4 linked regions of the Homo sapiens genome follow. The protein of the gene in region 1 interacts with the protein of each later gene in a pairwise test. Each region holds a gene or a part of one and is shown in the gene's direction. Other genes may lie near its edges.

Evidence for each region.
Region 2: the proteins of EIF3E (region 1) and RUNDC3A interact in binary tests that used the Homo sapiens proteins (3 or more experiments, as listed by UniProt).
Region 3: the proteins of EIF3E (region 1) and GPBP1L1 interact in binary tests that used the Homo sapiens proteins (3 or more experiments, as listed by UniProt).
Region 4: the proteins of EIF3E (region 1) and EPN2 interact in binary tests that used the Homo sapiens proteins (3 or more experiments, as listed by UniProt).

The regions. Positions count from the first base shown.
Region 1 is NC_000008.11:108,200,712-108,203,748, reverse strand, and holds the end of EIF3E (eukaryotic translation initiation factor 3 subunit E), read left to right. Parts: intron 1-245; coding exon 246-348; intron 349-631; coding exon 632-766; intron 767-1,825; coding exon 1,826-1,864; 3' UTR 1,865-2,533; downstream 2,534-3,037. UniProt on the Homo sapiens protein: Component of the eukaryotic translation initiation factor 3 (eIF-3) complex, which is required for several steps in the initiation of protein synthesis.
Region 2 is NC_000017.11:44,311,571-44,318,605, forward strand, and holds part of RUNDC3A (RUN domain-containing protein 3A), read left to right. Parts: intron 1-1,009; coding exon 1,010-1,125; intron 1,126-1,533; coding exon 1,534-1,682; intron 1,683-1,847; coding exon 1,848-1,933; intron 1,934-3,164; coding exon 3,165-3,254; intron 3,255-3,358; coding exon 3,359-3,439; intron 3,440-3,584; coding exon 3,585-3,750; intron 3,751-3,881; coding exon 3,882-4,039; intron 4,040-4,814; coding exon 4,815-4,952; intron 4,953-5,048; coding exon 5,049-5,155; intron 5,156-5,466; coding exon of another isoform or gene 5,467-5,553; intron 5,554-5,914; coding exon of another isoform or gene 5,915-5,934; exon of another isoform or gene 5,935-6,291; intron 6,292-6,525; coding exon 6,526-6,668; 3' UTR 6,669-7,035. UniProt on the Homo sapiens protein: May act as an effector of RAP2A in neuronal cells.
Region 3 is NC_000001.11:45,683,507-45,690,985, reverse strand, and holds the start of GPBP1L1 (vasculin-like protein 1), read left to right. Parts: upstream 1-4,452; 5' UTR 4,453-4,574; intron 4,575-5,365; 5' UTR 5,366-5,410; intron 5,411-7,479. UniProt on the Homo sapiens protein: Possible transcription factor.
Region 4 is NC_000017.11:19,233,093-19,240,391, forward strand, and holds the start of EPN2 (epsin-2), read left to right. Parts: upstream 1-4,273; 5' UTR 4,274-4,439; intron 4,440-7,299. UniProt on the Homo sapiens protein: Plays a role in the formation of clathrin-coated invaginations and endocytosis.

The DNA.
Region 1 (3,037 bases):
AGAATATGTTACCCTACCCTCAAGGATTTTACAGTCCAGTTGGTGAATGGAATAGGTCGTGCATAGTACAAGTCAATAGGCACAAGCACATGAACAAATCAGACAGTAGGGGTCATGGTATATAAGAGAAGGGTGATCCAGAAATACCAAAAAGTATCTATGCAGAGTGTGAGTCAACACTGTGTACATAAAACTAAGTTTTTAGGCCCAGTTAATTAACATTGCTGTTTTTACTTTTTCATTAGCATGTTGGCAGATAAATTGAACATGACTCCAGAAGAAGCTGAAAGGTGGATTGTAAATTTGATTAGAAATGCAAGACTGGATGCCAAGATTGATTCTAAATTAGTGAGTATTATGTTAGCTATGCTACATACTATCAGTTCCTGATTATACTTTTGGGAATTCTTAACTAGGACATTTTATTACCTCCTTTAATAATTTATTTTGTTTTAATGTAAAACAGTTCTTTGAAGGCAACAGAAGCCTCCTATTTTTTTTCTTCCTTGGTAAATATTGTCATCTCTATACAGTGCATTAAAATATGCGCAAAGGTATGTCATGCTTTTTACTTACCTGAGAAACTCAGTCATTAACATTATAGGATCAATTTCCCTGTGTTTCCTTTTAGGGTCATGTGGTTATGGGTAACAATGCAGTCTCACCCTATCAGCAAGTGATTGAAAAGACCAAAAGCCTTTCCTTTAGAAGCCAGATGTTGGCCATGAATATTGAGAAGAAACTTAATCAGAATAGCAGGTCAGAGGTAAGAACCACACATCTTCTATTCTGTCTGGGGTTTAGCAACCATGTAATTGTTACATGAAGTTTCAAAGTGTATTGATGAGTTGTAGCTGATTTTGTTTTTCTCTTTAAAGATATGAACATTTTTAAGAAATTACTAAACAGAAAATTTTTTCTTAGATGTATTATATGCATTAAACATAGAAACTGAAAAAGAAATTGTGTTCCTAGTTTATTATAACTATTTTTCTTTTGCTTTGACTCTTCCTGTGTGACTTCATTAACTCATTTCCTCAGGGTTTTCAACACATCATTTTGATACTGGCAGATGATAACTTACATGTGTAGCCCTCTTTCAAGTGTTCGAAATGTGTATTCTTTCTAAATCTAAAGAAATAATTCTGTAAAAATGTTGATCTTATTATATGTATTAGTGCTGATCTTATACAAATTTCATTATCTTTCATCTGATATTCATATCAAAAATTAATCTCCCATTTTGATAGAGATCCTGCATGTTAGAGATTGAAGAAACTTGAATGGCCTTATAATTTTGGAATCCTAAACTGTGTTGTTTAGACATTATGATTATGTGTAACTGGAGGGTAGGAAGTCATTAGGAAGCAGTTGTGGGATATGCAGAGACCCCATTTGATTGAAATTTTAGGAACAAATTTGTGTCCGCAGAATAATCCTTTAGTTCAAATGAGAAGGATGCATTAGAATTCAAGTTGCATATTTTAGCCAAGTTTAGAATAACTGAGCCTAGAAAGTAACTTTCATATGATGTTTTTTTCTGTATGCTTTAGGATTAATTTGTATCATTTATTGTTCCAGTATTAATGATACTGTTATTGCTATATATTTTAATTGGCCAAAAGCTATACCAGATAATAATTTTGGTGTTTGTTTTGTCCTGAGTGGGACATCTGACATCTAGTAATTGCAGGAGTTAAGATCTTAGAATGGTTTGGCAAGAGACTATAGTGCTGAAGTAAATGCTGTGTTACTTTCTTCTATGTTAGTTTTTTTCCGAAAGTATTTTCTTTTCACGGTGTTGATTTCTTTTTGCATATTTTAGGCTCCTAACTGGGCAACTCAAGATTCTGGCTTCTACTGAAGAACCATAAAGAAAAGATGAAAAAAAAAACTATCAAAGAAAGATGAAATAATAAAACTATTATATAAAGGGTGACTTACATTTTGGAAACAACATATTACGTATAAATTTTGAAGAATTGGAATAAAATTGATTCATTTTATCTTGCTGTCAGTTTTCTTGCATGTGCAAGTTTGTGTTTTTTTAACTTTCTTTTTTGGAATAATTATATTCAGAGGAATTTGCAAAAATAGTACAGAGAAGTCCCTGTAGGCTGAACCCTGTTTCCCTCAATTTTTTCACTTTGTCTTACTATGGTACAGTATCAAAACCAGGATGTTGACATTGGTACAATGTGTGTACAAATAGCTCCCTACCATTTTATCACGTGTAGATTTGTGTAACCATCACTGCAGCCAAGATAGAGAACTATCATCATGATCTCCCTCATGCTACCTTTTTGTAGCCATACCTACTCCCAACCAACTCTAACCCTAGGAACCACTAATCTGTTCCTCATCGCTATATTTTGTCATTATGAGAATGTTATATAAATGGAATTACATAATACACAACCTTTGAGATTAGCTTTTTTCATTCATCACAATGCTCTTGAGAGCCATCCAAGTTGAGAGATAGATATATATATATATATGATCAGTAGTTAATTCCTTTTTTATTGCCAAATAGTATTCCATGGTATTGATGTGCCACGTGGTTTAACTGGTATTGATGTGCCATGTGGTTTAACCATGTACCTATTGAAGGATATTTTAGTTGTTTCCAGTTTGGTACTATTACAAATAAAACTGTTGTTCCTTAATTTCTTAAAAGTGGCTCCTCAGTCACTCACTGTATAGTTACGGAGACTAGGCATATAAGTTGAATTTTATAAGTGTCAAATGTTAAATACAGACATACTGTTTACTGGATACTGGAGGTATTTAAGAGCTACAGAGCCCTCACTGGGTCCCTTTTTTACATAGAAGTGGCTTGATTTTTCACTTTGGTTGAACTGACAGCCAGTCAGATAACAGAAACTTGTTGCTGCTCTCAAGGAGGAGGTTCAAAGATAAAAAGGTACATACTGTTCTTTTATTTGACATCTGATCAGGCCACCTTCCATACTCAGTTTAGAGACTACGGTAGTTAGGTTGCATCTGCCATTCAAAGAGCATGGAGACCTCCCAATAC
Region 2 (7,035 bases), on another chromosome or scaffold:
AGAAGAAAAGGACATTTCCAAGCAGCTCCCATTTCCCTGGACACCCCGCCCCTGCTCTGCCACCCACAGCAGGGAAATCATGGGATGTTAGGAACTGTGTCCTCATCCCTGCCCTACTCCATTGCAGGGATGGCAGGGGGAGATTGCAGGGGTAGTGACTGCAGAGGGAGCCTGAGGCTTAGACAGGACTGGAGAGGGGGCACTGCATGGCTTCAGTCCTTCAGCCCCACAGGCTTCCCTTAGTCCCTTCCTCCCAAAGAAGCCAGGCCCCCAAGCCCCTTCCAGGGATCTGCTGCCAATGCCCCCTCCTGCCCAGTGTCTGTGTCAGGCCCATACCCCGCACCTCCCCACCCCACCCCCGCCCAGCTCTGCACTGCCTGGTTCTGGGCAGCTGGTGTGTGGGAGGCCAAGCCGGGAAGGAAAGGGGGGAAGGGGGTATCTGTGTACTGGGAGCCCACCTGGCCACCTGCGCATGCCCACACTCCATGTGCACAGTGCCAACTCACATGCCCTGGTACAGGTGACCCCCATCCCCAAAAGGGACTGAAGGTTGCTCCAGCAATCACAGAAGACAGCTCAGGTGGGGCACACACTGGCTTCTAACACCTAGTTGACCCAGGCCTCGCACACACAGACCCTGAAGGGTGGTCTATGGGGAAGGGGCTCCTGGACCGCCCCCGGCTTGTGCCTCATCTTCCTATTTTTTCAGTCCCTCTCACCCCTTGCTCCCGAAGCTTCCTTTCTCTGGCTGTCACCTCTCCTGTCACCCACTTTGTCAATCAGTCTCCCACCTGTCACCCTTCCTCCCCATCTGCCACCCTCTCACTCCACATGACACGGTACCTCTATGGTCACTGTAGTCTTGCCTGTCTCCCCACTCGCTCTGCCCCCCACCACATCCATGCCCTTCCTGACCTTTCTTCTCTGCCGGTTGCTCCCTGTCTCTCCCTCCATCACCTGTTTCCTCACCTGACACCCCACTGCCCCATCTCCCCACCTCGCCGCCCAGGTTCTCTGTGAAAACGCTGCTGGAGAAGTACACAGCGGAGCCCATCGATGACTCATCGGAGGAGTTTGTCAATTTTGCAGCCATTTTAGAGCAGATCCTCAGCCACCGCTTCAAAGGTGGGCCCAGCGCCCCTCCCCCAGCGGTCCCTCCCCCAGCGCCCCTCCCCCAGTGGTCCCTCCCCCAGCGCCCCTCCCCCAGCGGTCCCTCCCCAACTCCCAACCTTTAGCTCCCAGCCACCTCTTTCTGATATACTCCATGGACTCTGAACCCCCTCATTGACCCTGGCCCCCATTCTGGGCCATGCACAGAAGCTTGTGTACAGATCTGGGAAGAGGGAGAGGCCTTTGGCCTACAATCCCCATCATGGGCAAGCGATATGCTGGGGTGCCCACTGCACACGTGCATGTGTGTGCACAGATCTTTGTGGGAGGAGGCTGCTTATGCTTATGCATGTGAGTGCCTCACTACATGGACCCTCTCCAAACTCCCTGGTCTTGCTGAGCCCCCTCCCTGCCCTGGCTCAGCCTGTGCCCCAGCAGGTCCAGTGAGCTGGTTCAGCTCAGACGGGCAGCGGGGCTTTTGGGACTATATCCGGCTGGCCTGCAGCAAAGTGCCCAACAACTGTGTGAGCAGCATCGAGAACATGGAGAACATCAGCACAGCCCGGGCCAAGGTGAGGGGCCTGAAGCAAGCAACTGCTCTCTGCTCTGGACACAGGGGGCCTGCCTGTTTCTTGGTTTTTGCCCCCTGTGCACAGCCCAGGGGAGAAGGGCCCACACCTGATGCTGGACACATGAGTCCCTCTGGGGCAGCAAGTAAAGGTGAACATGATTTCCAGGGCCGGGCATGGATCCGGGTGGCACTGATGGAGAAGCGCATGTCAGAATACATCACCACGGCTCTGCGTGACACCCGGACCACCAGGTCAGACTTCCCAGGCAACTCAGACCACAGGTCTCAGAGTGCACCTGCATTGCCCAAACACAGCTGATCCTTAAGTTCCTGCAGCATCCTTCAGTTCCTGGACTACAAGTCCCAGCACCAGCACACATGGCTGATTTCCCTCTTCCAGCCTGGCCTGCAGTCCCAGGACGAACTCTTTTTTTTTTTTTTTTTTTTGAGAAGGAGTTTCGCTCTTGTTGCCCAGGCTGGAGTGCGATGGCGCGATCTCGGCTCACTGCAACCTCCGCCTCCTGGGTTCAAGCGATTCTCCTGCCTCAGCCTCCTGAGTAGCTGGGATTACAGGCATACGCCACCATGCCCAGCTAATTTTGTATTTTTAGTTTCTCCATGTTGGTCAGGCTGGTCTCAAACTCCCAACCTCAGGTGATCCTCCCGCCTTGGCCTCCCAAAGTGCTGGGATTACAGGCATGAGCCACCGCTCCTGGCCCCAGGACAAACTTTTACCACCACCACCACCACCACTTGCAAGTCAAATCTAATGCCCATTATTTGCCATCAATGCCCAGCACGCTCCACCCTTGCACACCTCTGGATGAGCCTCAGCCATGCACCATCTCAAGTGTTGGCTTGCTCCATGATCTACAACACAGCCCTTCTGTCTCTCCAAACAACGAAAGCAGTTCTGTACTTGCTATTCACGGACACAGAGTCCTTATATGGGGAGTTCAATCCCTGCACTGTGGGTTCACAGGGAGGTTGGGTGCCTGAGGCAAGGGGTTACAAGGAGGAGTGTGCCTGTGTGGGCAGGTGCATCTGAAGCTGTCTGGGTGTGGCGGGGGGCATATACCTCCCCATCCCAATTGGCCATACCCAGCCTGATGTTTTTACTGAATTCCATTCCTCAGTCTACACGTTTCAAGTTAACACGTTTTTTGCGCACCTACTGTATACCAAGCACTAATGATTAAGACTTGCTTCCTGATATGAAGGATCTGGGTAACCCAGTACTTGATGAGGAAGGGGTAGCTCAGAGGGAGGAGTCGGCTCAGGGAACACCCATTCTAGGTGATGGGGCCACAGGTGCGAGCCCCAGGCTGAAGGGGGAGAGAGGCTCCAGGCCTGCGTGCAGATCAGGAAGGAGAATTGGCCTTCCTTCAGGATGGGGTGGCAGTAAGCCAACAATAGCAGCTCTGGGGGGGGGGGGGGCGCTCCAGGGGCCTGCTGCATCCTCTGGCCCTCTGCCTCCCCACAGACGGTTCTATGACTCTGGAGCCATCATGCTGCGGGATGAAGCCACCATCCTCACCGGAATGCTGATCGGACTGAGCGCCATCGACTTCAGGTGGGGTCTGCCTGACGGCAGTGGTGGAGGGGGCTGTTTCCCCCATAAATGTCCTACCCCAACCCCTCACACCCACCTCCAACCCTGTGGCTCCTCTGCCTCAGCTTCTGTCTAAAGGGGGAAGTCCTGGACGGGAAGACCCCCGTGGTCATCGATTACACGCCCTACCTAAAGTTCACGCAGAGGTGAGCGGCTCCATGACTGCGGCGGGGCGGGGGACGGGGCCTCGGGACATCCTGGGGACGTCCTGGTCCCACCGCCCTCAGCGGCCAGCGCAGACGCGCGGGGGGAGGGGCGGGACCGGCCGTGCCCACTGCTCCCTCTCCCAAGCTACGACTACCTGACGGACGAGGAGGAGCGGCACAGCGCCGAGAGCAGCACGAGCGAGGACAACTCGCCCGAGCACCCGTACCTCCCGCTCGTCACCGATGAGGACAGCTGGTACAGCAAGTGGCACAAGATGGAGCAGAAGTTCCGCATCGTCTACGCGCAGAAGGTGCGCGACGCCGGCGGGCCCGGGGGGCGGGCGGGCCGGGCGGGGGATCCGGGCATCCCGGGGCGGGGCGGGGATGGGGGCCGCGGCCGGGACGTCCTCCCAGCCGCCCGGGCTGAGCCGGCGCCCCGCAGGGCTACCTGGAGGAGCTGGTGCGTCTGCGCGAGTCGCAGCTGAAGGACCTGGAGGCGGAGAACCGGCGGCTTCAGCTGCAGCTGGAGGAGGCGGCGGCGCAGAACCAGCGCGAGAAACGGGAGCTGGAAGGCGTGATCCTGGAGCTGCAGGAGCAGCTGTGAGCGCACGGCCTGCCCTAACCCCTGACCCCCGCCGCCCCGACCACATCACCGGGTGAACCCCATCTTCACTTCCATCGACTCTAACATCACCCGACACGAGCACCCACCTCTCCAGCATCAACCCTCTGATCCAGCCAGCCCCACCCCGAGATGCCCACAATGATCTTCTAACATTGCCCCCAGCATAAGATCCAGTGACTTCCAACAGCCAGAGCCCACCCTTCACCTTCAGTTATCTTCCGCTAGAGTGGCCATCCAACCTTACTGCAGGGACCCCACGTCACTCACAAGGACCTGCGGTGTTGCTCTGCAACCTTCAACACGATTGCATTCATCGCCTCACTCACCTGCACCACAGGCTCACTGACCGTCATCATCCGCCGTGACCCCCGACCTCACCCCTGCCGATCCCTGTAACACTTCTTCTCTACGCCTTTCCACCACCCTGATCTTGCGGCAAGATCCCCAAGACGATCTTACACTTCAGGGATTCCCACACTATCCTCCACTGACGTCCCCATCACCCCAGCTGACCCCAACAACACTGCACCATTCCCTCCAACTCCCAATATTTGTGCACGAATCCCTGTCACCCCTCCACCCCAGTACCACCTCCACTTCCTCCCGGGATCTGGCCCACTGACCCCAACACCGTATCCCCATTTTTGCCGCTCAGATTTCATTCCTGACCCCTCCCTCATCCCCTTGCTGAATCTCCCTTCCTCACTTCTCCTACTTCCAGCCAGGCCTGACTCCTCCTCCCCCTCCCAGGACAGGTCTGATCCCCAGTGACCACGCCCCTCTGGCCCAGGGTTCCAAGGAGCTCACTACACCCCTGGTCAATCAATGGCCCTCACTGGGAACGCTTAATGGGGCCGAGGGCGCCAGCAACTCCAAGCTCTACCGGAGGTAAGCCCCAGCCAGGTGGGGCTTGGGCCTGAGAGCGGGTCGTCCTGGGGAAGAAGGGCTTCCTCTACCGGCGCACCAGCTCTCGCTCTGCCGCAGACACAGCTTCATGAGCACGGAGCCGCTGTCAGCTGAAGCCAGTCTGAGCTCGGACTCCCAGCGCCTGGGAGAGGGCACGCGGGACGAGGAGCCCTGGGGTCCCATCGGTGAGCTCCCCCAACCCAACACCCAGTACCCCTCCAGAAAGGGCTGAGGCAAGGCCCTGAGGCCTCAAGGCATGTCCTCATTCATTCTCTTAGTCTTTTTTTTTTTTTTTTTTTTGAGACGGAGTCTCACTCTGTCATCCAAGTTGGAGTGCAGTGGCGCAATCTCAGCTCATTGCAACCTCTGCCTCCCGGGTTCAAGGGATTCCCTTGCCTCAGCCTCCCGAGTAGCTGGGATTAAAAGCGCCTGCCACCACGCGCAGCTAATTTGTGTATTTTTAGTAGAGACGCGCGGCTAATTTGTGTATTTTTAGTAGAGACGGAGTTTCGCCAGGCTGGTCTCGAACTCCTGACCTCAAGTGATTCACCCACCTTGGCCTCCCAAAGTGCTGGGATTACAGGTGTGAGCCACTGTGCCCGGCCTCTCTCAGCCTTTCTTGAGGGTTTAGCACAGCAATCGAGAGCTTACTTTGAGGTGGCAGAACACAGCATATGCAGAACCCAGCATAAATCTGGCTGTGCCTCCTCTGACCATGTGAGCTTGGTCAATCACTTTACCTCCATGAGTCTATTCTTTGTAAATGGGGATGTTGATAATCACCAATGTTGTCACATGGTGAGGGCTCAGTGGTTTTTTAGTGTCATGACATCCTCGGGGGCTCACAAACTCTCGGGGAACTCCTTAGACTAATTTGCTCTTATCTCATGCACACTGTGAACTACTTGCCTGACCATTGTTTCCCCCTTCTCTTTGGCTGCCAGGAAGCTCAGAGCCAAATTAGTGGCTCCCTTCGAGCGAATGCCCAGGACTTCAACGCATGCACTTTGTGTTGACCTCATCCCTGGCTTCACCTTGGTTTTTCCCATCCTAGTTCTCCCTATGCCTGAATATCCTGTCTTTTCTTTTTTATAAGCAACCACACTGTATTGGATGACCCTAGATCTTCTTTGAGACAAGGCAGGCTGTGGCCATGTAGCCCCATCACACTGTGTTTGTGATTGTCTGTGTGTCTGTCTCCCCCACCAGACTGTGAGCTCCATGAGGGCAGGGACCGTGTCTTGTCCGTTCTCTGTATCCCCAGTGCTTGGAACAGAGCGAGTGCTCACTGTGTATTTAATAAATGGACAAAGAGAGAGGATGACCCTCACGGGGAGACAGAGACATCAACTGACGATTACAATACAGTGTCCCCAGCACGGTGCCTGGCACAGGCAGGTGCTTAACCAAAGTTTAACTGAAAATGGCAAATGCTGTGGAATATGCCAAGGTCTCCTGGGGGGTGACTTGAGGGCTGCCCCTTCACTGCCCACCCCTCTACCAACTCCCACACATGTAGACTGGTCGCTTGGCCTCACCTGCCCTCTCTCCCCAGGGAAGGACCCCACGCCCTCCATGCTGGGCCTCTGCGGCTCCCTGGCCTCCATTCCCAGCTGCAAGTCCCTGGCGAGCTTCAAATCCAACGAGTGCCTGGTGAGCGACAGTCCCGAGGGCAGCCCAGCACTGAGCCCCAGCTGAGGAACAGCATGGGCAGTGCCAGCCCCACCTGCCAGGGGCCATGGACACCTGCCACCTTTCTTCAACAAGAGTCCCCCAATCCAGGCTACCCTTCCAGAGAACGCTACCCACCCAGCCAGGGTTCTCTCGGGGAAGATCTCGTCTGCTCACCTTAGCTTTCTGCCTTGGCAGCACGGGCTGCGGAAGAAAGCACGCTGGGCCAGGAGGCAGGGGTGCCCAAGCCACAGGGAGCCCCTGGGGAAGCCTGCTCCATTCTTCTGGTGACCTTGGCGCTCCTTCACTCATCTCCCCTGCCCCCTCAGGAACTGGTGGCCCAGCTTCCACACCCCCACCTCCCAGTCTCTAGCCTCTCCATCTGTCTGTGTAT
Region 3 (7,479 bases), on another chromosome or scaffold:
AGGGGCATGTTTCTGTGTATAACACAAGGTGTCACTTAATTTTCCTCATTTTATACATTAATTTTTAAATAGTAGTAATTCATGAATATAACACTTTCCTTTGAAAAGAATCATTAATGTTTTCAAACTGTCGGTAACACAGTAACAAAATAGATCCTTTTAGTATCTGAACTGTTCTTTTAGCTTTGGCTGTCTAGTGTAATAGAAAGAGTAATGCACATAGAGATTTTACAGATACTTCCACCATTTCCTAGCTGTGTGACACTGGGCAAATTGCTTGAGTACTGGTTTTCTCATCTTTAAAATGAAGGGTCTTCTAAGTGGTGTTTTTGTGAAATTAAAAAAAAAACCAAAACAAAACTGGAAGGTCATAGCTTCTGTTTCCTTTTTTCCTCCTATTTTGGGGCTTAAGAGTTCACAACTCAAAATAACGATAGTACCAACCAATATAATTTAGGTTTTTTTAATTTGTTTGTTTGTTTTGAGACAAGAGTCTTGCTGTGTCGCCCAGGCTGGAGTGCAGTGGCGCGATCTTGGCTCACTGCATCATCTGCCTACCGGGTTCAAGCAATTCTTGTGCCTCAGCCTCCCAAGTAGCTGGGATTACAAGCTCCTGCCACCATGTCTGGCCAATTTTTGTATTTTCAGGAGAGATGGGGTTTCGCCATGTTGGCCAGGCTGGTCCTGAACTCCTGACCTCAGGTGATCCAACTGCCTAGGCCTCCCAAAGTGTTGGGATTACAGGCATGAGCCACCGCGCCCGGTGAGCATTAACTCATTTAATGCTCAAAATAACCTCATTAACTTAGTACTGAGAGAGAATAGCCTGTTGGAGTGCAGACTTTGGTGTCAAACTTGGTTGGAATCCTGGCTCCACTACTTATTAGCTGTGTGTCTTTGAACAAATTATTTAATCTTGTTATGGTGCAGTTCATTCACCTTTGAAATATGGATACTAATTCATAGGGTTGATGTAACATTTTTTTTTTTGGATACAGGGTCTCGCTCTGTCACCCAATCTGGACTGCAGTGGCGTGCTCTCCGCTGTCTGCAGCCTTGACCTCCCGGGATCGAGGGATCTTACCACCTCAGCCCTCTAAGGAGCTGGGACTACAGGCCACGCCACCATGCCCAGCCAATTTTTTTTTGAGACGGAGTCTTGCTCTGTCGCCCAGGGTGGAGTGCAGTGGTGCCATCTCAGCTCACTGCAAGCTTCGCCTCCCAGGTTCATGCCATTCTCCTGCCTCAGCCTCCTGAGTAGCTGGGACTACAGGCATATGCCACCACGCCCAGCTCATTTTTTGTATTTTTAGTAGAGACGGAGTTTCACCATGTTAGGATGGTCTCGATCTCCTGACCTCGTGATCCGCCTGCTTTGGCCTCCCAAAGTGCTGGGATTACAGGCATTAGGCACCGTGCCTGGCCCCAATTTTTGTATTTTTTGTATAGAAGGGGTTTTGCCATATTGCTCAGGCTGGTCTTGAACTCCTGAGCTCAAGCAATCCACCTGCCTCGGCCTCCCAAAGTGCTGGGATTGCAGGTGTGTGCCACTTAGCCTGATATAACACTTAATAAGTTACTACATGTAAATAGCTGAGAACCGTCCCTGACACAAAGCACTTTACACAGGAGGGACTGATTAAAAACTCTAATGTAAGCAGCCAGTAAAAACAGGTGAATGATAATATGGATCTAGATCTGACAATTTCATTCTTAACCAAGAGAATGGGATGTCTAAAAAAACCTACAGTTGCTGCTTAATTTTAAAAAATCGATTGGGCAGGGCGCAGTGACTCGCTCCTGTAAGCCCAGCAGTTTGGGAGGCCGAGGTGGGTGGATCACGAGGTCAGGAGTTCGAGACCAGCCTGGCCAACGTAGTGAACCTCCCCCCCGTCTCTACTAAAAATACAAAAAATTAGCTGGGCGTGGTGGCAGGCGCCTGTAATCCCAGCTACTCGGGAGGCTGAGGCAGGAGAATTGCTTGAACCTGGGAGGCGGAGGTTGCAGTGAGCCGAGATCGCGCCATTGCACTCCAGCCCACGAGACAGTGCGAAGCTCCGTCTCAAAAAAAAAAAAAAAAAATCGATTGAACTAATTTATTGATCACAGATCTTAGGGCTGGGTCAAGAAATCCTGTATACCAGTTAATGTCTTCATACTATACTTAAGGAAGCAAGTAGGGAGGTAAGTAATCCTGGGCCTCCGAGTAGAATTTAGATCACACCCACACCCACCCACCTGAGCCCCAGACCAAAATGCCCGCAGAGCGTACCCATCACTTTTGTTCAAAATCACTTTCTTCTTAAGGACTTTCCAGACCACTCCATTTAAAATCTCAACCATCCCCCCATCTTTGGAAACTCCCTTTCCTCTGTGGCACGTGCTTTCCAACTAGTGGGTATTAAAAAGTGATAACCTAAAAAGTCCAGGGACGGCAGGTGATGCGGGATTAAGGACTGAGACTCAAAGCTTAATCCTCCTAATATAAATGAAAAAGCTCAATATTCCCATTGCCCTGGTGGGAAGACTGCAAACTGCCAGCTTCAAACTGACCTCTGAGAAAGGAAGGCGGGGTTTAGACGCCAGTGTCTTCGGGAAACCCTGCCCGAGAGTGCCCGCGTCTCCAATTTACTACCAACCCTTGGTGCCCTCCCATCCCAACGTCGCAAATTTACTACCAACCCTTGGTGCCTCCCATCCCAACCTGCACCTGTGGCGACTTTGAGACTTGCCAGCGTTGCACGGAGAGAAGGAAAACAACCGCAACAACAGCCCAGGTCCACTGGAAAGGCACTTCCGGCAAGTGGATTCAGAGAGGCCCCTACTTCCTGAGGGCTGAAAAAAAATGAGTCCGGGTAGGGACTTGACCTGCGCTAATTGGTTCCTAGGCCCGGCTTTCTGTTTGGGGGCCATTCTTAATTTCTAGTTGAATCCAGATGTTGAACGGTCCTTGAAGTTCTATTCCAGGGCTCCCAGGCAGCAGAATCTGCCCACAGAGTTCGGGTAAGTAGAGTGCAAGTACTGAAACAATCTCAGAATGATGGTGGTGAAGGAAGGTAAGAGACGGGATTTTAGGCCCAGTGTGACCTGAATTGCTTGCCATCTGTGGGACTTATGTTTTACTTTGCAAAACAGGGTTTATAAGGCCTATGGGGACACATCTCACTGCATTAGGGCCCTTTACTATCATTTAGAGGGGGAAAAAAGCCCAGTTCTTACATCCATTTTCTTTGCTGGGACCTATAAACTTCATTAAGGGTTAAAGAGCACAAGAGCAGGATTTTCACTTCCATGAAAGGTGTGGTGATAAGGGCCCTAGGCTTGGGGGTGGTTCGGAAAGTCAGATCATTTCTCCTACTGCCCTCGGCTTTATTTCTCGGCTATGTGACCTTGGGCAAGTCCCTTCTCTTATCTAGACTTGTTTCACAGGAAATGGCACCAGGCAATTTTAGTGCCCTTCCGTGTCTATGGATAAAACTGAAGACATGTAGTAGGAGATCTCAGGGGCCCACGCCGGCCAGTCCCTCCAATCCTCCGGATTCTAGGTAGTCTAGCTTCCTGGTTGCCAGCCATTACACGGTTTAGCTTTCCGTGCCGGATGGAGCCACAGCGAAGTCTTCCTTAATAGTAAGCGCTTTTAGTCGAGCTAGGCCTTCAGTTTTATTGCCTTCTCTGTCATGGCAGCGCCGCCCCTTCCAGTAGTGCGATACCCAATGAGACTTCAGGTAGGAGAAACGGCACTGTCGCAAGCGCAGGCTCTCGCCGGAATCCCGCCCTTCGCTTGGGCGGGGGAGTGACGCCTGCGCTCCAGGGGAACTACTACTCCCAGCGGGTAGCGCGGCCGACGCAGCCGCGCAGCCTCCGGGGCCAGGCCGTGTGGCCCGCTGGGGACTGGAGTCTCAACGACGCGCACACGAGAAGTAAGGAGCGGAAGGTGGGAAAGGGCCGGAAAACACACGTTCCTCCGAAACCGGTTTGCAAGTCCTTGTAGAGGTAGTTTCGGGACGCGCACTGGCCAAGGGGCGGGCTGTGGGAGGGTGAAGAAAAAAGGGATACACACATGCATACCCACCCACTCATTCATACGCGCCCAGGCCCTGGAAGTGGGCAAGGGGGTTAGAAGGGGCGTACTAAACTAGGCTTGTCCGTGCCTCAGGCGGCACGAGGAAAGGCAGAGGATTCAATTCTGTAGGGGGCAGAGGTGACCATGCGCCGCCTCAAGCGGCGAAGAAGGGAGCCGGGGGCGGGGCAGGGCATAACCGCCGTTCTGGAGGCCGAACGTTGGCAGCGTAGGGAACTGGCGTCCGGGAGGGTCGCCGGAGCAGTCCCTTGCGCATGCGCTTCTTCAGGTGGGCGTGTGTAAGGCGGGGTCGGACGGGGGATGGGAGGGCCGTGCTGCTGGTCGCTCCTCCTCCTCCACCCGCTCTGCCCCTCCTGGACCTTGTGGGCCGGGCAGCCATTTTGGGAAGAGCTTTGTTATGGTTGTGGACTAGCCGCCTCTGCCGGGTCGACAAGCTGGGGACGCGTCCTCAGACGCAGCGTCTAGTCCCTGGCCATAGCTCCGCCGCTGCCCGGTGAGTGGGAGTTTGGGAAACGGGGCAGTAGGAGATCCTGGAGTCGTTCTGGCGCGGGGCTCCGCCCGGTGCCTAACCAACGGGCTGTTAAAACTAGTTGAAAGAAGCTCTCACACAGGTGGTTGGGTATAGGTCCGACCCGAGAGGGGCGAGCGGAGCCCACGGGTCAAGTGGTTCGGATGCGGCACCCCCGCCTCCCCCGTGCATGGAGCTTTGCACGCGAGCGTCGCCGGGGCTCCGCGAAAGCGCTCCTACTTTAACTTCGGTCGTCGGGTCGGAACGCTCACCTGCGGCTCTTTGGCTCCTCTCCAGGCGATCCGGCTTGGTGCTCGTTGAGTGACTTGGCTTACGGGTTTTTTTCTTTCCTTCTTGAAATGAGAGCTAAGGGCTTTTGTTTTCCTTCAAAGGAAAACCTAAGGAGGAAAAAGTGTAAGTCAAATGTTGGATATCTGAGGGGAAAAAAGTTTTAACCCCCAGCTTTCCGGTTCTCTGTGGTAGCGAGGTGTTTTCGCTTAGATTGAGTCTATCCGATATCTACCAACCTCCTTTCCTTGGAGGGGCAGGGAAAGCTGGTCGATCCTGAAATGTTTTAAGTGTTATTTTTTTTCTGTTGTTTTAAATCTAGTTCTCCCCAACCCGTGAAATTCGAAAGACAGTCTGAATCCAAAATGGCTGTAGCTTGGGGAAGTGCCCTGCCCTTCGATTACTTAAATACATTAACGTTTAAAGATTTTAGTCCTTTCCCCTGTGGGGACATTAACTGAATCTTTTGATATTTTGGTTTTTTGCAGTTGGTGTCTCACCTTTAACTCTCCTTATGCTGGGTGAAAACAAAGGTGAGGCTCACAAAGTTGACTATTCCAAAAGTTTACATAAGAATGGGTGCGGTGCGGTGGTGTGTGTGTTTAATAGTTGCTTATAGTTTTGAAATTGTGCTGTGGTGTCAATTTTATCTGCCAACTTCGTGCTCTGAAGTTGGCTTGTCATATTTGTTGAAATATTTTTAACATTGACATTTATTGCTTACCAGAAAAATACAGTTAATAATAGTGGTTCATGTTTTAGTTTAGTAGTAAGTCGTGTTCTTGTGTAAATCTTATCCAAAAGTAAAGTGATTGGTAGTCACTCCTCATTAGACTTATATTTGTAATTTAGTAGACTGCTGATCTTTTCTAAGGTCTTTTTTATCCAATATTTGAAAGGAAATTAGGGTGCTATTAAGTTTGAGATATTTACTAGAATAGTGTAAGACATTTTAACAAGTGAAAACATACTTTAGGTATGGAGTACCTGATTGTCGTGCCCTTTTGAACAAGAGACTGTCTTTTGTTTGCTTTTTTTTTTTAATCGATAGATCCAGAAGTTTAAACAAAAAGTCATAGATTGGAAACCAAAACCAATAAATTTCAATATTTGGAAAGGTGCTGAAGCCTGTATCTATTTAAAAGATAAAAGAGTGAAATGCTAATTGTGAATGAGAACTTTGAAATTAATAGTAAAATAAACTCATCTTTCCTAGGGAGTCAGTTTTCAATGTACCTTTTGACGTTTTTTCAAATACAAAAGTTGGTTTTTGTTAATACCCCTAGGATTTTTTGTTGTTGTTGTTAAATTATTTTGGTGGTTTTACAGGAAAAATATTTAAAGTTTTTAATAGAAATTACAAGCTAGTTGCTTTGTGTTTTGTCACTGTTAACTACTAAACTGGAGTGAGATATTGATTTTTTGGGGGGGTACTCAGTGGTTTGTACATGTTAATATAAACATTCAGTTGATTCTGGATGGTGTCTTTATCAGAGCTCTTGATTTGTGGTGTGGGGGGAACTCTTGGGGAAACCTTTATTTTGAGCGAATTCAATTTACTAGATTGCTCATCAGTGGCTGTTAAAATGCTTAGCTGAGGAGGACACATTCAACCATTTAAATTTAGAATGATAAGAAATCTGGTGCACATTTCTGCTTGTAATTCATTTTTAATTTTGAGTTAAAGATAAGACACAATCGTGAATCATACTTCAGAAGATTGCATATCTTTATTTTATGGCTATAACTCTGATGTGCCAGGGACTGACTGCTGTTTAAAGTGCTTTGTATTTGTTACTTACTTTTTTTTCCTTCTTTTCTTTTCTTTTTCTTTTTTTTTTTTTTTTTTTGAGACGGAGTTTCGCTCTTGTTGCCCAGGCTGGAGTGCGGTGGCTTGATTTCTGTTCACTGCAACCTCCGCCTCCTGGGTTCAAGCGATTCACCTGTCTCAGCCTCCCGAGTAGCTGGTATTACAGGGGCTCACCACTACGCCTGGCTAATTTTTTGTATTTTTAGTAGAGATGGGTTTCACCATGTTGGCCAGGCTGGTCTTGAACTCCTGACCTCAGGTGATCCGCCTGCCTTGGCCTCCCAAAGTGCTGGGATTATAGTCATGAGCCACCGCCCCCGCCCGGCTTGTTGTTTACTTTTATAAGTATACTGGTTTATTTGTTTTGTTTTGTTTTTGATACGGGGTCTCACTCTGTCACCCAGATTGGAGTGCGGTGGCATGATTTCAGCTCACTGCAGCCTCCACCTCTCAGGCTTAAGCAGTCCTCCCACCTCAACCTCCCTAGTAGCTGGGACGACAGGTGCGTGCCACCGCACCCAGCTAATTTTTTTTTTTTTTTTTTTTTGTATTTTATTAGAGAGGAGGGGGAGGGTTCATCCTATTGCCAAGCTGGTCTCGAACTCAGGGACTCAAGCAATGGTCTCGAACTCAGGGACTCAAGCAATCTGCTCACTTTGGCCTCCCAAAGTGTTGGGATTACAGGCGTGAGCCACAGCGCCAGGTCTAAGTAGATACTGTTTTATACCCTATTTTGTAGTTGAGGAAAAGGAGTCCAGAGATTCATCCAGCTGGTAGGTAACAGTCTATATT
Region 4 (7,299 bases), on another chromosome or scaffold:
ATGCCTGTAATCCCATCACTTTGGGAGGCCAAGGCAGGCGGATCATTTGAGGTCAGGAGTTCGAGACCAGGCTGACCAACATGGTGAAACGGCGTGTCTACTAAAAAAATACCAAAATTAGCTGGGCATGGTGGCACATGCCTGTAATCCCAGCTACTCAGGAGAATCGCTTGAACCAGGGAGGCGGAGGGTGCAATGAGCCGAGATTGCGCCACTGGACTCTAGCCTGGGCAACAGAGTGAGACTCCATCTTAAATAAATAAATAAATAAATAAATTTAGAAATACAAAAATTAGCCAGGTGTGGTGGCACATGTCTGTAATTCCAGCTACTTGGGAGGCTAAGGTAGGAAAATTGCTTGAACCTGGGAGGCGGAGGTTGCGGTGAACTCCGCGCCACTGCACTCCAGCCTGGGCAACAAGAACGAAACTTCGTCTCAAAAAACAAAGAAAAAAAGTTTAGCTTTGGAGTTTAGGCTTGGGTTTTCCAGGGTTACCACTTTTTAGCTGTGTTATCTTGGGCAAATAATGGAAGCTTTCTGAACCTCAGCTGTAAAATAAGGATAACGGTAGTCTCTACCTCTTAGGGTTTTTTATGAAGAGGAAATGAGGTACTGCATGCAAAACATTTGCACAATGCTCACTACTTTGTTGTCATTGTTACTAGTTCCTTTCTCCAGCACCTGCACTTCCAGGATGTTGGCACAGGTCCTTCCTTCCCCATGGGCTAGAAGGAAACTTCCTCCTGTGAGAGCTGTCATAGCTCTTTCTCTTGATTGTCTATGTGGCATTTGGTTTCTGCTCATGTTCATGCTGCCCAAACTCAAAACTTCTCTGTCCTAGACTTTCAACCCCTAGAAGGGAAAGGATGGCTCCATTCTTTTCAATGTCCTTAATAAGAGAACTGCCATCAACACCCATCCAGTGCATTTACAGTTTCCAAAGCATTTCCTCCTCTGCCTTTTCACCTGAGCCAGAATGCAATCCTAGGGAGTGGGAGGGGTTATTATTCCCACTTCACAGATGGGGAAACTGAGGTCCAGGGAGGGGCAGTGACGTCATGGTCAAGCAGCAAGTCGGTGGACAAGAAATTAGGTGTTTCTGGATTGCCAACACAAGTTTCTTTTTGTGGGACAAATAGTTTTGAATATAGAGTTCAAGCCTTTGGTGAAGATCCCGGGGAGCCTGTTCTGCACCTGTGCTAAGTGATTCTTTTCATTCAGCATGCAGTCTGTCCCTGTCTGCTGCCTGCCAGTCTTTCCCCCAAAGTCCCTTCCTGCTTGAAACCCTCCTTCCCTAACCCCAGAGACACCCCTGGCCTGCACTGCCAGCTCTTTCTTCTGAAATACACCTCTCCAACCGGCCCCCATCAGTCTGCTCCATTATCCACCTGGAACCAACCTCCAAACCTCTGCAAGGGCAGATGAGAGTGTCTCCTCCAGCCCTGTTTTCCATGGACTGCTTTGGGCACGGATGAAATTGTTCAGCTTATCCTGCAAGTTCCTCTGCAAGACTGCTTATGTGCTCTAGACTCATAGAACCTGGAATTGAATCCTAGCCCTGCCACATGCTGCCTCAGTTTCCGCATCTAAAATAGGAATAGGGCTGCTGACGTCAAGGGATCATCATGAGGATGAATTGAGAGAGGAATGCCAGGGGGCTGATACGCTTCAAGGAGGGGGTCCAGGAAAGAGAAATGACTTTGAGGAATGCAAGAATGTCCCCTCTGACCTTGCACGTGGCGGTCTTCCGGCCTCAGGACACCCTCCTCCACTTCCCAAGCCTGGGCTAATCTGGTATTCTCCAACTCACTTCCTGTCCTGTAGGTTAGCTCATCATCTCATTATCTGTATCCAGTTCTCTTTCCAGGCTTGCATATTATCTGTGCGGCTACACACACTTGCTAGGTGGGTAGTGAAGGGAGTATTAGGCTCTGCATATGGAAAAGTGGGCCTGGGTGGCCAAGCCCCAGCATATCTCCAAACCTCAATTTCTTGTCTGTAAAATGTGAACAGCAAGAATGTGCACCTTGCTGGGCACGGTGGCTCACACCTGTAATCCCAACACTTTGGGAGGCTGAGGCGGGAGGATCACGAGGTCAGGAGTTCGAGACCAGCCTGGCCAACATGGTGAAACCCTGTCTCTACTAAAAATACAAAAATTAGCCAGGTGTGGGGGTGCGGGCCTGTAATCCCAGCCACGTGGGAGGCTGAGGCAGGAGAATCACTTGAACCTGGGAGATGGAGGTTGCAGTGAGCTGAGATTGTGCCATTGCATTTCAGCCTGGGCAATAGAGTGAGACTCCGTCTCAAAACAAATAAATAAAAAAAGAATGTGCACTTGTGGAATTGTGGTAAGGTTTTAGACCAGCACTGGTCAGCATGGTAGCATCTAGCCACATATGGCTATTTACATTTAAATTAATAAAAGTTTAATGAAGTTTAAAAAATTCAGCCCCTCAGTCTCACTAGCCACATTTCAAGTGCTCGCTGGCCTCCTGTGACTCGTAGCTATCCTACGGACAGCACGCAGAAAGAACATTTCCATCGTGGAGGGAAATTCTGCTGAACAGTGCTGATTTAGAAGCATCACGCCCGTGCTGTGCATCAGCTCTGTGTTATAACTCATCTGACATTGTAAACTCAGGGCAGAAGCATGATTGCAGTGTAAAGTTCTGCTTTCCTTGGAGATGGGGTAAAGAGGTGAGGCTCACAAGGAATGTTGGACTGGTTGAGGGCATTCTCTGGGATGAGGGTGGACCAAGTTCAAAACGGGGAGCTCCGGCTTCTGCTGCAAGGCAGGCACATAGGGCATAATTCCCTCTGCTGGTGGAGAAGGGGCACCAAGCAGTGGGAAGGGTGGTTAACTGGAGAGTGTTTCTAGCATCTAGAGCTACCAGTGTTTGACTTTTCAAAGGAAAAGTGGCTATGTGGTTTTGCAAACGTGTTACAAGCTCTCTCCATTTTTATCGTATTTATTGTATCACTAGCTAGACTAATAAAGAAAAAAGAGAAGATACAAGTAAACATAATCAGAAAGGGCAAAGAGGACATTACCACCGACCCCATACAAACACAAAAAAGCCCTCAAAAACTATTATGAACACGTCTATGCACACACACTAAAAAACTTACAATAAATAGATGAATTCCTGGAAAGATACAACCTTTTTTTTTTTTGCCAGAGAATGGAATTCCAGATCCTGGGTTGTTAGAACCTTAAGGGATACTTTCATCCCCTGGTTCCTGTACAGGGAGGAGGAATCTGAGGCTCAGAGAAGTACAGTGACTTGTTTAAGGTCCCTCAGTGAGTTAGGGCAGAGGAAGACTTCTGGCCACAGCTTCCCTGAAGCCAAGGCTAGGCAGAGTGTTGATGTCACCCAGGCAACAGGGATGGTGCCCTCTGCCCACCTAGCAAGCCCTGACTCATGCTCCGCGCCCCTGCTGTGAGAAGTCTCTGCTGACTCCCACCCTGATTGGAGCAGGTTAGTCAGCTTTGAGGTGCAGCCTCCAGTTCTGGCCCCTCCAGTTCCGGGACTCTCATTCGAGGCATTTGGGGCTGTCTCATTTCTGTGCCCAGCACAGGGCTTGGCACAGAGGAGGTGCTTTGTGGGTGCCCGCCAGTCAAGGGTTTCCGTTTTCGTGCCATGTAGGTAACCCCTTGCCATTCGTGCCCTTAGGTAACCCCTTGAGCAGCCTAAAGAAGCCTAGAGACTTCTCCGTTTTTGAGTATATTTTATTGACGTGAAATACACGCACGGAAAAGCGCACAAATCCAAAGTGTACTTCCGCGCATCTTCATAAAGTGAACACACTTGTAGCCTAAGAACCCAACCCTACCAGCGCCCGGCAGGCCCTGGCCCCCTTCCAGTCTCTCCTACTGAACAAGGTTTTTGAGTGAAACCGGCAGGCCGGAGCGTGAGTTTCTGCTTGACGGGGCGGGGTCTGCGCGTGCTGCCCGGCCGTGAGTGTGGGGGGGCCGTGAGTGTGTACGGGGTGGAGTGGCCTGAAGGGGATTAGAGTGCGCGCGTTCGGGTATTAATTTGCCAGGGTTTGTGTGGCGCTCGGGATTGGGGGTTTTTTGGGGGCTCGGGCGTCGACTGTGGGGCGCTGCGGAAGGGTGGGTCGTCCGCGTGGGGTCCTGGAGCGCAGGAGGCGGAGGGGAAGCCGCGCAGGGGCCACTAGGGAGGGGCTCTGGCGGGGTCGCAGGGGCGTGGTCTGCGGGCGTGGGGGCGGGACCTCGGGGCCTCGGGGGCGGGGCCTGAGGGCGCGCGCACGCGTCCGGCGCGCCCCCTCCCGGCCGCCATGTTGGCTGGTGTGTGGGTGTCAAACTGAGCCAGACGCGGCGGTGGCGGCGGCTCCGCGGGCTACGGTCGCTCCCGCCTCTCGAGCGCTGCCGGTGGCCGCAGCGGCGCACCCACGCCGGCCCGGAGGAGCAGAGGTGAGCCACAGCCCGTGGGGCTCCAAGGCCAGAGCGAGTCCCCGGGGCGAGGACCCTCCCCCTCTCCAGGGCGCGGACGCCCCCAGAGCACAGGCTCCCCTACCTCACCAGCCCCGCCAGGGCATGCGCCCCTGCCGCCCCGCTGGTCCCTACGCCAGGCTCTGGGGGATCCCCTTCTTTCCAACCAGGCCCCGCCCCACGGACTGGAGCATGGCCCCCTTCCCATCTGGATCCAGCTTTCCGCTGCAAGGATCTCCCCCCTTACCCGTCCCTATCACCGAGCATCTCCTTTTATGTCCCCAGAGTCCAGGGCGCCCCTTACTCCTACCTCGGATCCTGGAGCCCCGTTCATCTTGGAACAACCCCGCCCCCTCCCCAGAGCACGTTCCTCCTCTCCCCGAGCCCGGCGCCCCTTCCTCCTGAGCCCAGCCTGGTCTCCCGCCAGCCCCCGTGCAGAGCCCGGTCCGGGCGCCCTCCGGGAATCGGGGGAGGGGTCCTTATCTCTGTCCGGGATCCCGCCCGTCTCACCTTTCCTGGGGGCTGTAGCAGGGCCCCCTTCCGTCCTTGGGGACCAGGCTCCCCACTCCCCAGCCCCCACTCCCACGGAACAGCGGGGACGGGGGCGGAAGAGCCAGGCTCCAGCTGCCTTTTGTTCCGCGTGGGATGGCAGAGACCCACCCGGCCCGGCGGTCCTGCTCGGCTGATCCGGGTGGGTGAATGGGTGCGTGGGGTCTGGCCTCTTCCAGGAGAGACTTCCTCTCTCTCCCTGTGGGGCGGCTCCCCTAGAGCCGAGAGCCGAGCGCGTTGGGAGGCTGGCCTTTGCTAGAGGAGTCGGTGCCAACAGGTTTTTGTTTGCGACCTGAAGTTTGCCCAGTGGCTTTCCCTGGGGCAGCTTGAGCTCCCTGTGAATCCCCCCGCCGGAGCTTGTGGAAGGCCGTTTCTCCGCCCAAGGAGTCCGTCTGGGCGACTCCTTCACAGTTGTGCTTCCCTGGGGACGTATCTAAAATCTGTGCTTTAAGAGCGGAGAGGGCTTAACCATCATTAGGGTTCAGATGAGGGAAACTGAGGCCCAGAACTGCAGTAATTTGCCCAAGGTCACGCAGTGATACTGTGTCAGTGCAGAACTAGAAGCTAGGTCTCCAGGCTCTGTTTACCACATTTAATAACTTTTTTATCTTTTAGGGAGATGTTCAGGACCCTACCTTCCCCTTTATTTTTAATATTTATGCAAGAAAGTGGGCAGGAAAATATGAGAAGTAATGAGTTATTCCTTTTCACCTCCAGAAAATATCCTGTGAAAGAAGGGATTGGAACAGGGTGTTAAAATGATGGGAAAAGGTGAATTTTAAGAATCCAAGCTTCCTCTCATTATGTAATATAACGAAGATTTGGCAGAAAACGTGCCTCTTGTAGCTCTAGATACAGAATTTTAGGTGCTGACAAAATCTTATGCTGAATCTGGCACAGCAGTGATTGAGTTAGCATTGATAATTAAGTTTTCATCTGTATTTAAATGAACATCAAAAGGGACTACAATTTGCTTCTGAATGGTACTTGTTCGGTGCTTGTTTTTGGGACAAGTGATTGTGTTGGGGAAGCGCACCTAAACTTTTAAATTTTTTATTTATTTATTTTTTTGAGACGGAGTCTCTGTCACCCAGGCTAGAGTGCAGTGGCACGATCTCGGCTCACCGAAACCTCCGCCTCCTGGGTTCAAGCGATTCTCCTGCCTCAGCCTCCGGAGTAGCTGGGATTACAGGCGCACGCCATCCACCACGCCCGGCTAATCTTTGTATTTTTAGTAGAGACGGGATTTCGCCACGTTGGCCAGGCTGGTCTCGAACTCCTGACCTCATGTGATCCGCCCACCTCGGCCTCCCAAAGTGCTGGGATTACAGGCGTGAGCCAACACTCCCGGCCTAAATCTTTTATTTATCTGTATTTTTACTTTTACATTTTAAAAGCTTATTTATTTCCCTGGTTTTAAAATTGGGCTAGTCATCTTTACCAGTCTCACTGGGCTATTCTTTTGTAAGCAGGGAATGAGATACTGGTTATTAAAGATTTTGGTAAAGTGTAAGTTACTGTAAGGCATGATTCAGGACTGCGTCCCACAAGTCCCCGGACCAGGAGCCAGTTCGGATTGTCTTGTGGGATGTACCAAGTTTCCCTGGTTTACAGAGGCTTTTTGCCTCTCTGAAGCCTGAGCTGGCCAGATGGAGAGCTCTGTGGAAAACTTCCAGCAGTGTGTGTTGGGCCAAGCACTCGAGGTGTGAAGAAATGTAAAACTTTCAAGTGATAATATCTAGCATCGTGTATGCAGCCTTGAAAAATGACCCAACCTTTGTAGAAATTCTCTGTTATCACTAACCCTCTTCCATAATGAGCGGAGGATTTCCCAAGAATTGGGATTCTGATAAGAGTCCTGCAAAAGTTGAAAAGTTTTCGGACTTTTTTTTTTTTTAACTTTAATTAGGAGGAGCGGCAACTTTCGGTTGTGAACTGAAGTACTATGAGATTTTTATGCATGGAATTGTCCTTGTCATACTTTTGGAAAGTACATTAAAATTTTCTAAGTTTTCTGGCGGTTCTCACTGTTCCCCATAACCTTTCTCTCTGGTGTATAGGGGTGTGAAGGACCACGATTGTTGTCATTTTATGACATGTATACCTGGTGACCCTGAGCCTTGGAGAAGTCAAAGGGCTTGGATTTGGGGAATTTTTTTTTTTTTGAGATGGCGTCTCACGCTGTCACCCAGGCTGGAGTGCAGTGGCGCAATCTTGGCTCACTGCAAACCTCTGCCTCCTGGGTTCAAGTGATTCTCCTGCCTAACCTCCCGAGTAGCTGGGACTACAGGCG